3 linked regions of the Homo sapiens genome follow. The protein of the gene in region 1 interacts with the protein of each later gene in a pairwise test. Each region holds a gene or a part of one and is shown in the gene's direction. Other genes may lie near its edges. The genes, in order: SSC4D, GNE and TFAP2D.

Region 1 (3,657 bases):
AAAGGTAACTCCAGGTGTTGCCACGGCAATGGTAAACTGACATGGCATACGAGTGGGCGTATCTCATGGAGAGGCACTCCCACCCCATCCCTGTTTTAGCTAGTCCTCAATTTGGCCCGGTATCTGAGCTCCACCTCCTGAGTCGAGTGAGTCCTCCCTCCTGCCCCATTCCCCACTCAAGAGATTAGTTGTTTTTTTGTTTTTTGTTTTTTCACTTTAAGAGGGGCTGTAGGAGGGCAGAAGTCTGTCTCAGTGAGCCCTGACAGAGCCCCTGCTAACCCTGGGCATGGCCCTTGCCCTGCTAGCCCTGTTTTCTCTGTAAGAGGGGGATAATGGGCTGGGCGCGGTGGCTCACGCCTATAATCCCAGCACTTTGGGAGGCCGAGATGGGCGGATCGCCTGAGGTCGGGTGTTTGAGACCAGCCTAGCCAGCATGGTGAAACCCCATCTCTACTAAAAAAAATACAAAAATTAGCCAGGCGTGCTGGCAGGCGCCTGTAATCCCAGCTACTCAGGAAGCTGAGGCAGGGGAATCGCTTGAACCTGGGAGGCGGAGGTTGCAGTGAGCGGAGATCGCACCATTGCACTCCAGCCTGGGTAACAAGAGCGAAACTCCATCTCAAAAAAAAGAAAAGAGGAGGATAATGAGAACTCAGGCCTGTGTATGGTCCTCCCTGATGGGCAAGGCCTTCTGTACTCCATGTCTGTTGGACACAGAGGACTTCTGATGAGAACATGGGACATTAGAGAGAAATGAAAGCGTGTCTGTTGACAGCCCTGTATAAACTGAAGTGTACACCTCACAGCACAAGTGAATTACAACCACTATCAAAGTGGGGACAGGCCTCCTTGGAACCCCGCTGCGGCTGGGCCACCAGCCCTGGAAGTAACATCTATTCTCTCCTCCAGGCAGACCCTCCTATCCTCCCCTGACAGCCCATGGCTGACCAGAGACCAGAATCTCAGCCTCTGACCCTGCCCCCTTCTCTCCTGCCCTAGGCCTGGGTCCCCCAACGCTCACAGCACTGCCATCCTCAGCCACAAGAGAGGACTGGGCTTGGCAGACAGATCCGTCCGGTAAAGAGCTCAGCCCTCCAGGCGGGAATGGTAGGGGTATGGTGGGTGCGGCTGGGAACTGGGAAGAATGTTCTGGATTCACAGGCGGGGGCCCTGGCTAACAGGCCAGGGCTTTGGCCAGATGGTGCAGAGGTGGGTGAGACAATTATGAGCAGACGGAGCAAGGATGATGAAACTCAGAGCTCTGAAAACTTCAGCGGGGTGGGAGGAGGCAGTAAGAGATTTCTTCAAAGCACAGAAGTAAAATTTGGGATGTGGGCGGTGGCTCACTCCTATAATCCCAGCACTTTGGGAAACAGGCAGGAGGATCTGTTGAGGTCAGTTAAAGACCATCCTGGGCAACGTAGCTAGACCCTGTCTCTAAATATAAATAAATAAATAAATATCTTATATATATTATATATATCTTATATATAATATATATCATATATATTATACACATATTTTATATATTTATATATATCATATATATTATACATATTTTATATATATATATATATATATTATACATACATATATTTAAATTGCCAGGCATAGTGGCTCATGCCTGTAATCCCAGCACTTTGGGAGGCTGAGGCAGGTGGATCACTTGATGTTGGGAGTTCAAGACCAGCCTGGCCAACATGGTGAAATCCCATCCCTACTAAAAATACAAAAATTAAAAATAAATAAATAAAAATACAAAAATTAGCCGGGCGCCTGTAATCCCAGCTACTTGGAAGGCTGAGGCAGGAGAATTGCTTAAGCCTGGCAGGCAGAGGTTGCAAAGAGCTGAGATTGCGCCACTGCACCACAGTCTGGGCGAGACAGAGCGAAACTCTGTATCAAAAAAAAAAAAAAAAAATTAGCTGGGCATGGTGGGTCGCACCAGTCCTAGCACTTTGGAATACCGAGGCAGGAGGATCACTTGAGGCCAGGAGTTCTAGGCTGCAGTGAGCTATGATCGCACCACTGCACTCCAGCCTGGGCGACAGAGCAAGACCCTGTCTCGAAATTAAAAAAACTTTTTTTTCAATGGGATGATGCTGAGATTGGGAATTGAGAGACCTTATGAGGGGGTCGATTGAGATGAAGGTTGAGTCAAGGTTAGCAGTGCAATTGGAATTAGGATAGGAACTATCCCTGGGCCTGAAGTTAGGATAATACCTAGAATTAGCTTTCGGTTCATTCAACCAAGTTTCCCGGAGATCCCAACCCGCGCCAGACAACGTGGTGACTCTGGGGTTGCAGCTGAGTGGGGGTACGGGTGTGGTAGGGTTGGGGGTCTTGGTAGGCGTCCCCGTGCCCTGCTGCAGGACAGAAGGCCTCCTCGTCCCCTTCGAACGCCCTAGATGCCCTGTCTCCACAGCTACAGGAGTTGGCCCCCAGCCTTCCCGGGAGACAGCACTGCTCACCACCGCCGCCTGGGCCGCGGGGAAGAAAAGTAAGTGGCGGTGCCTGGGTCTGCGGGGGATGGGGAAGGGTAGGGCTGGGGCTCTGCCGGGAGCCGGCAGCCCCAGCCCAGCCCCTCTGGCCGCGGGCCTGTGCGCCCCGCAGGTGGACGGCTGCGACTGGTGGGCGGCCCGGGTCCGTGCCGCGGCCGCGTGGAGGTGTTGCACGCCGGGGGCTGGGGCACCGTGTGCGACGATGACTGGGACTTTGCGGACGCGCGCGTGGCCTGCCGCGAAGCGGGCTGCGGGCCTGCGCTGGGCGCTACGGGACTGGGCCACTTCGGCTACGGCCGCGGCCCCGTGCTGCTGGACAACGTGGGCTGCGCCGGCACCGAGGCTCGCCTGAGCGACTGCTTCCACCTGGGCTGGGGCCAGCACAACTGCGGCCACCACGAGGACGCGGGAGCGCTCTGCGCAGGTGAGGCTGACAGCGAAGGTGAGGCTGACAGCGGGGCCGCGCACTGCGGCGTGGGAGGGGCGGGGCGGCGCCACGCGCGAGGCCTCTCTTGCGGCACTGCCGCCCGGGGAGCATGCGCACTCCGCAGAGGGGCGCCGCCCCGCCGTGCGCCCGCTCTGCGGCTGCGCGGCGGGGCGAGGCCGGAACGGAGAGCCTTCTGCAGTGGAAAATGGGGCGGGGCCTGGTGAGCGCCGCGTGGTGCAGCTGTGAGGGGCGGTGTCCGAAGGTCAGGGCTAAGGCCGATCCCAGTTCGAGAAAGGCATCAAGTCCGTAAAGGGTGGGGCCGTTTGCTCCCGGCTAAATCTAGACCCCGCAAAACTCTATTAAGCAGAGAGTGGATCACCCTTACCAGAGCTAGCGTGTGACCTTTGGGCGGAGTCAGTGGAAAGGGGTGTTTGCAGTTTGGCAGAACATTGTGAAATTCATTGATTGCTGTGGGAATTGATATCTTCACCCTCATTTGGTGCCCCAGGGCTAGTAGGCCCTACTTCCCATAGTTTTGGCCACAGAGGGTTCTGTTTTGGGGCCAAGGTTTGGAGAGGCACAACACCTATTTCTTTTTTTTTTTCTTTTGAGACAGAGTCTTGCTCTGTCACTCAGACTGGGCTGCAGTGGCACGATCATAGTTCACTGCAGCCTTAAACTCCTGGGCTCAAGCTATCCTACTCCGCTCAACCTCCAGAGTAGCTGGGA
Region 2 (3,411 bases), on another chromosome or scaffold:
CCTGAGTGGAATCAAGTTCTTGTCTTTAGGATGACCGTTTCTTAACAATCAAATCTGGTATTGAACTGCAGGTGACTTTGGCAGAGAAATGTTTTCACTTTTGGTCTCCTCTTCCAGAGTCACCTTTCCCCACTCCTATTTTTGTAGATGCTATTCTTTCTGATGTCTTCTTACTAGGGGTCATTTTAGCTCAAACCCTGTAAGTTACAGTCACAATTTTCTGTGCCAAAGCAGCTACAATAATAGAGAGGAAGCCTTCTTAGAACTCTGCTTACTAATGTATTAATACCACTGAGACCTTCAGGCCTTGCCTGGGATATCACTTCATCCTGAAGTTTGCATTAATAATCCTTCCAGGCCGGGCACAGTGGCTCACGCCTGTAATCCCAGCACTTTGGGAGGCCGAGGCGGGCGGATCACGAGGTCAGGAGATCGAGACCGCCCTGGCTAACATGGTGAAACATGGTGAAACCCCGTCTCTACTAAAAATACAAAAAATTAGCTGGGTGTGGTGGCGGGTCCCAGCTACTCGGGAGGCTGAGGCAGGAGAATGGCATGAACCAGGGAGGCGGAGCTGGCAGTGAACTGAGACCGCACCACTGCACTCCAGCCTGGGTGACAGAGCAAGACTCCATCTCAAAAATAATAATAATAAATAATAATAATAATAATAATAATAATAATAATCCTTCCAGCTGGGCGCAGTGGCTCACGCCTGTAATCCCAACATTTTGGGAGGCCGAGATGGGCGGATCACCTGAGGTCAGGAGTTCAAGACCAGCCTGGCCAACATGGTGAAACCCCATCTCTACTAAAATACAAAAATTAGCCGGGCGTGGTGGCATGTGCCTGTAGTCCCAGCTACTCGGGAGGCTGAGGCAGGAGAATTGCTTGAACCCGGGAGGCGGAGGTTGCAGTGAGCCGAGATCATGCCACTGCACTCCACCCTGGGTGACAGAGCGAGACTCCGTCTACACACACACACACACACACACACACATCCTTCCTCCTCTAACCCCAAACTAAGATCACAGAAGGTGATCCAGTCAGAGAACAGAGGGAAATCTTACCAGGAAGGGCTTAAGTACACTTTTTTTTAAAACAGCTTTATTGTTTTTAAAGCCTACAATTTGATAAGCCTTGACATATGTATACCTGTGAAAGCATCACCACAATCAAGACACTGGACATATCTATCACTCCCCCATCTCAGATATCCCCCCTAATCCTGGATACCATTTGTTGAAAGATGTTATTACTCTAGCTGAACTTACAAGAGACTTTAGACCAGGGATCTAAATTACAGTGGCCTTAGTGACCTTGTCCTTATCTTCTTAGGACAGCTGAGAAGCCACTGGGACTTAGAGCCTTTAAAAGGAGATTAACTGTCCCAAAAGGATCTTTGCTACTGACCAGCAGACACTTCTTCCTTCAGTAGCCTTTCATACTGTGTTGAGTAACACCCTAGGGTGTCCATTAAAGTTTTGAGTTTTACCTAGAGCCCAGAGCCATGAATCAGGATTCTGTCTACATGATTCGTGTTTTCATTGGTGTCAAAATACAAAAGCCAAAGTTCTGGCTATGAATTGTTAACTTGGAAGAAATACTAACTGCCACCACTTATTAAGTGCCTACTGTGTGCCAGGCTCTGAACTAGGTGCTTCATATACATTATCCTAAATTATCTCAACATATGAGGTAGGTGTTTTAATTTTTATTTTATAGAACTTGGTGTGTTTGACTGTTAAGCTATGGGGCTAGAGAGAGGGTTTGATCCCAGGTCCCTCTGTGCTTTTGCTGCTGAGCCACACAACCTCTCATTTCAAAAACACTTTCAAAATGCTAACATATTCTAATTCACTCTAGGCCACCAAAAACTTTAATACTAATATCTGATTTGTAAATGACTTAATGTATCCTTGACCCTATCAGCTGAATTTAATGAAATATTCCTCTCTGCTGTGAAATTTTACCAGTATAGTATTTGGTCTAGTGACAGGTGTTCTATTTTTTTGAGACGGGTCTCACTCTGTCACCCAGGCTGGAGTGCAGTGGCTCAATGCAACCTCTGCCCCCCAAGTTCAAGTGATTCTCCTGCCTCAGCCTCTTGAGTAGCTGGGATTACAGGCACATGCACCACGCCCGGCTGATTTTTTTTTGTATTTTTAGTAGACAGGGTTTCACCATGTTGGCCAGGCTGGTCTTGAACTCCTGACCTCAGGTGATCCGCCCGCCTCTGCCTCCCAAAGTGCTGGGATTACAGGTGTAAGCCATCACACCTGGCCCTAGTGACAGGTTTTTATGGGTACTTTTAGATGATCTAAGAAATCATGTGCATATATCTTTCAGATTTCTATTTTGGGAAAATGAAGGTTTCTACAACATATTGTTTCAGTGTTCAAATAAACTGAAGGACTCAACATTACATTTGAACTATATCCTTCCTAGTGGGTTAGTGTGAAAAAGAGTTTGGCTGATTCCTAAAACTCTGCCAGCCCTGCAGTAATCTCCAGGGCCTGGTTATTGTTCAGACATTCCATGGTGATTCCTGGGAAGGAAGCTTGGCTGCTCAGTTTCTGAGTCTGGGGTGAGATAATGTTCTGGGAAGGGACATCTGTTCTTTGGTGTAATCTCTCATGGTGAAATCTGCTCTGTACATCAGACAATTGCATTGCTACCAAGTTTCATACCAAATATTTGAAAGGATGGTATTGAATCTAAAACCAAATATTAGTTTTTATTAAACTCATGGGAAGGCTAATATATTCCAACGTAAATTATTACATATGGTTAAGTAATTGCATGTTAATTTATTTTAATGTAAATATTTTTGTTACTGTTCTGAGCCAAATTCTAAAGAAAAAATAAATACATTTCCTTGTTGAAATCCTGTTGTATTTTGTTTTGTTCGTAACTCATTAGCCAAAAGCATTTTCCTTCCCAGAAGAGATTTAATTGTTGCACTGCTTACGTTTTGAAGGTTATATAACTTCCTTAAGGCCTCTAATATCATTGCTTTCTTAACCAAAAAAAGTCTATTAATAGAAAGCATGGCTGGGCATGGTGCCTCATGCCTGTAATCCCAGCACTTTGGGAGGCTGAGGCAGAAAGATTGCTTGAACCCTAGAGTTCGAGACCAGCCTGGGCAACATGCCAAAACCCCATCTCTACAAAACAATACAAAAAAAATTAGCCAGGCATGGTGCAGTCTCAGCTACTCAGGAGGCTGAGGTGGGAGGATCACCTGAGCCCGGGAAGTGGAGGCTGCAGTAAGTTAGTTATGATCATGCCATTGCACTCTAGCCTGGGCGACACAGTGAGACCCTGTCTCAAAAACAACAAAAACAAAACATTGCTATATATAACATTGAAAATTTGGCATAAAAAAGCAAAGTAGCCCCCAAGAAAGAG
Region 3 (3,657 bases), on another chromosome or scaffold:
CTGTCTGCTCATAGCTGCACATTTGCAGACCATTAAATGTCAAGCAAGAATTGAATCCACTCATTTCAATTAACTTATCTTACAGAAGAGTAAATAGGAATAAACACCTGAAAATTATAATACAGCTTTATAATTTTTTATTTTTGTTACTTATATGCATCCTATCTTCTTATTGGACTATGTGAAATAAAAATCAGAGACTCCAGTCATAGCAAACATACGTAATATAACCAGTAATCACTATAACTAGATAAACTAGGGAATGTGTGGAAATAATACCCTTTTTGTGCAACATATGAATGGACCCAACATGTGTTCTGAGAAGTTTCTAATTTTACACCAATGGTAAAGCATGAGGTATTTTCATCAATTAAAATGGTAAAAGTTAATATTAAGTAGCCTATATGGATATTCATTACATCCTGGTCAGTTCACCTTTATTCATAAGACTTGGACAACATTATAAAAAATATATATGAAATCTAAAATTTATTGAATGAGAGATCCAATTGCTAATCTACATTGTCAGATTGGCCTACATATTTCTTTTTTACCTCCATGGATTACAGATTCAGTTGTCTTTAAGTATATTGCCAAGTATACAATTGTATAAAGGGCCTATTAATTAAGTGTCATTAGTCTTCTCATGCCACCTTATTTCCAGTGTTTTGTTGATTAAATATTTTGTGTAATTTAGACATTTATTTAGGCGAAAGAATAGAAACTGAAACATTTTTTGAATTCTAAAAATGAATCAGACAAAACGTGTTTATTTGGTTAATAGAAAACATATTTAAACCTTTTGATTGAATTTAGAACTAAATATGTCTAACATTTGATCTGCATTAAGGTAAAGCAGAATAGTTAACAACTTTTAGTGTTACCATACTGTTAATCATCTAAGGGTGAAACATAGAATTTGGATTTCAGACATCAGCTAAAAACTTACGTCCTTAAGGACAATGATGTAAGTGATAAAGTTAGAATGTATGATTCACTGAAGATCATCTTGTGTTACATAATTCATAATATGACATTTTGCCTTGAGATGTAAGATTGTTTCTTTTTGTAGATTTATAAATAAAAAATTAAATAAGAAGGAAAGTAGTCATAAAATCATAATTCTGTAAGTGCCATAATGAGATGATGATGATAATTGCCTACAGGGAATCTACAGGATTGTCATCTGTTTTCAAGTCTAAGCTTGAAAGTGAGTGAGTTAAGCTGTAGAATTAAATATAAAAGGGGGAGATATAATATAATATAATATTACTCCTGGTAGATCCTCCTGTGTGAATTATTTAGCATGAGTTAAATTTTTCCACCTCTTTAGCTTTCTCTAATTTCTTCGTCAATTTTATTATAACTTGCTGTATTATTCATACAGGAACAAAGTTGATTTGTCAACTTAAAAGTTTATTCCATTATCCAATTAATTCTGATATTATGCCACAATAACTAATGTTTCAATCTTTATTTTAATGTTTTAAAATTTATTTTAATCTGATAGAAAAACTAAAAGACTGCTAAAAACAAAAGTCTAAAAACAACACCAATCTTTCTTTGTAAGAATGGATCGTAATGATGACCTACCATACAGTAATTTGGAAATGATAGCATGAGGCTAAATTTAAAATTTTAGTTAGAAATTTCCATAAACAAAGACAACAAATCTATATTAAATAACACAAAGCACAAAAGATTATGATATACTCCTCAAAATGGCACCAAACACTTAGATTAAGTTGCATTCATTGATTAAAATATGGGCAATACACCTGAAAACAGGTATATTTCATAAAGCAACTGAGTCTCACAACAGAAAATGTGAGGAGTTCAGAAGAAACTGTCTGAATGAAAGTAGAAACACACAGTTGTTAAAAGCATGTATTCAGATGCTGTATCTCAGAGATCCAACTGGCCCTTTAGGAAGGGGATGTGAAGTATCTTATTTCACTGAAGCAGATAAGGACTTTGTTTTTCCTATCTCTGACTCCTTTTTACTTTCACCTGTGTTCTGCAAACATGAATAAGGCAATTTCTGTGAAATGACACAATATTTGAACACTGGCATTAAACCAGACCCTCATTGTTCATTTAAAATATCATAAGTGATCTTTGATGGAATTCAATAAATTTTAGATACCTGATTAAGAAGTCCCCACTGATTTTTAACTCAGTGATCAATTATTTGTACTTCAAGATATTTTGTCACTTTTTGGTAGTCATTTGTTGATGACACAAATGCCTTGCAGCAGAATAATGGCCGGGTTCATATTCACTTGAAATAATTTGACACTTCTATACCTGTCTTTGTTTACATTGATAATCAAAGTCAGGGCTACATTATTACATTTTTGCGACTGCCCATTGTAAAAACAGACAAAAAACCTAATTACTGTCATATTATCCCTTGATTTATGGAGTCACCTCACTTTAGATGATGGATGTTTTTAAGCAATTCTTTGGCAATCCTTTACTTTTCAGAGACTGGACTAATTTAGTGTTTTGTTGTTAAAATACAAAAACAAAAACAATATCTCTTTGTATAGTGTATTCTGCTTCTTTAGAATTATATCATTTGGAGTGTACATCACAAAGTCTTTACTGTTACATTGTAACACTGTAATTAAACTGAAACCAATGACCAAAAACCATAACCATTTAAAGCAAAGAAATGCAGCAGAAAAGTTACCTTGAGGGTAATTTTTGCAAGAAATTGGCTTACATGGAACATAATATAACCATTTTTTGTGAGGCTAGTGAACTAAATTACTGGTGATTATCTGCTTCAAATATTAGCATATAAAGTTAGCTCATAAGAATATGAACTCTAATGCAATATTGGGAAAAAAGGATTTTCCAAAGTCTGTTTGAATAATGGCTCTGAAGTAAGACTGTAACTTTAATTAAATTTGTTTACAGATATTATGTCTTAAAAAATCACATTTCAATTAAAAAGATCATAGTGATCATTTCATATGGGGTTCCCCTTATCCTGAGGTTAATTTATGAATAGTCATCTTAAAAATAAACATTGGTCTTATCAGTGCTCATGGATTGTTATTTGTTTGAAATGTTGTATGATTATCCTATAGCCGTTGAGAGCAAAGTCACCATTATGAAACTCAACTGTATGCTATGAATGGAACTTTTGAGGTTGCTTTATGAAATGTTATCTAGACTTCTTTTAAAAGAGAGAACAAGCCTTTGGTTAAATATCATGGGATGAAATTAAAGCTCAATTTGAAAATTTCAATTTTAAATTTGATTCTTTTATTTTAGACAAATCTGTAAAGAATTCCAAGACCTCTTGAGCCAAGATAGATCACCACTGGGATCCTCCAGACCCACTCCAATTCTAGACCTTGACATCCAGAGACATTTAACACATTTCAGGTAAGACTGGTTTTCCAGTTTGCTCAAATTCTTTACTAACCCAGATGCTTGTATTCCTATCACAGTTCTATTTAGAGATACCACTTATATGTTTATATGGTGACTGTCCTAGTCCTTTCAGATGGGCTATAACAAAATACCTTAGACTGGGTAATTTATAAACAACAGAAATATATTTTTTACAGTTTGGAGGCCTGGGAAGTCTGAGATTAAGGTGCCGGCAGAGTTAATTAGACAAAGGCTTGCTCTTTGCTTCAG

What was found.
Region 2: the proteins of SSC4D (region 1) and GNE interact in a two-hybrid assay, tested with the Homo sapiens proteins (one large-scale study listed by BioGRID).
Region 3: the proteins of SSC4D (region 1) and TFAP2D interact in a two-hybrid assay, tested with the Homo sapiens proteins (one large-scale study listed by BioGRID).

The regions. Positions count from the first base shown.
Region 1 is NC_000007.14:76,392,673-76,396,329, reverse strand, and holds part of SSC4D (scavenger receptor cysteine-rich domain-containing group B protein precursor), read left to right. Parts: intron 1-999; coding exon 1,000-1,077; intron 1,078-2,425; coding exon 2,426-2,500; intron 2,501-2,613; coding exon 2,614-2,925; intron 2,926-3,657.
Region 2 is NC_000009.12:36,213,917-36,217,327, reverse strand, and holds the end of GNE (bifunctional UDP-N-acetylglucosamine 2-epimerase/N-acetylmannosamine kinase), read left to right. Parts: 3' UTR 1-2,887; downstream 2,888-3,411. UniProt on the Homo sapiens protein: Bifunctional enzyme that possesses both UDP-N-acetylglucosamine 2-epimerase and N-acetylmannosamine kinase activities, and serves as the initiator of the biosynthetic pathway leading to the production of N-acetylneuraminic acid (NeuAc), a critical precursor in the synthesis of sialic acids.
Region 3 is NC_000006.12:50,747,926-50,751,582, forward strand, and holds part of TFAP2D (transcription factor AP-2-delta), read left to right. Parts: intron 1-3,285; coding exon 3,286-3,399; intron 3,400-3,657.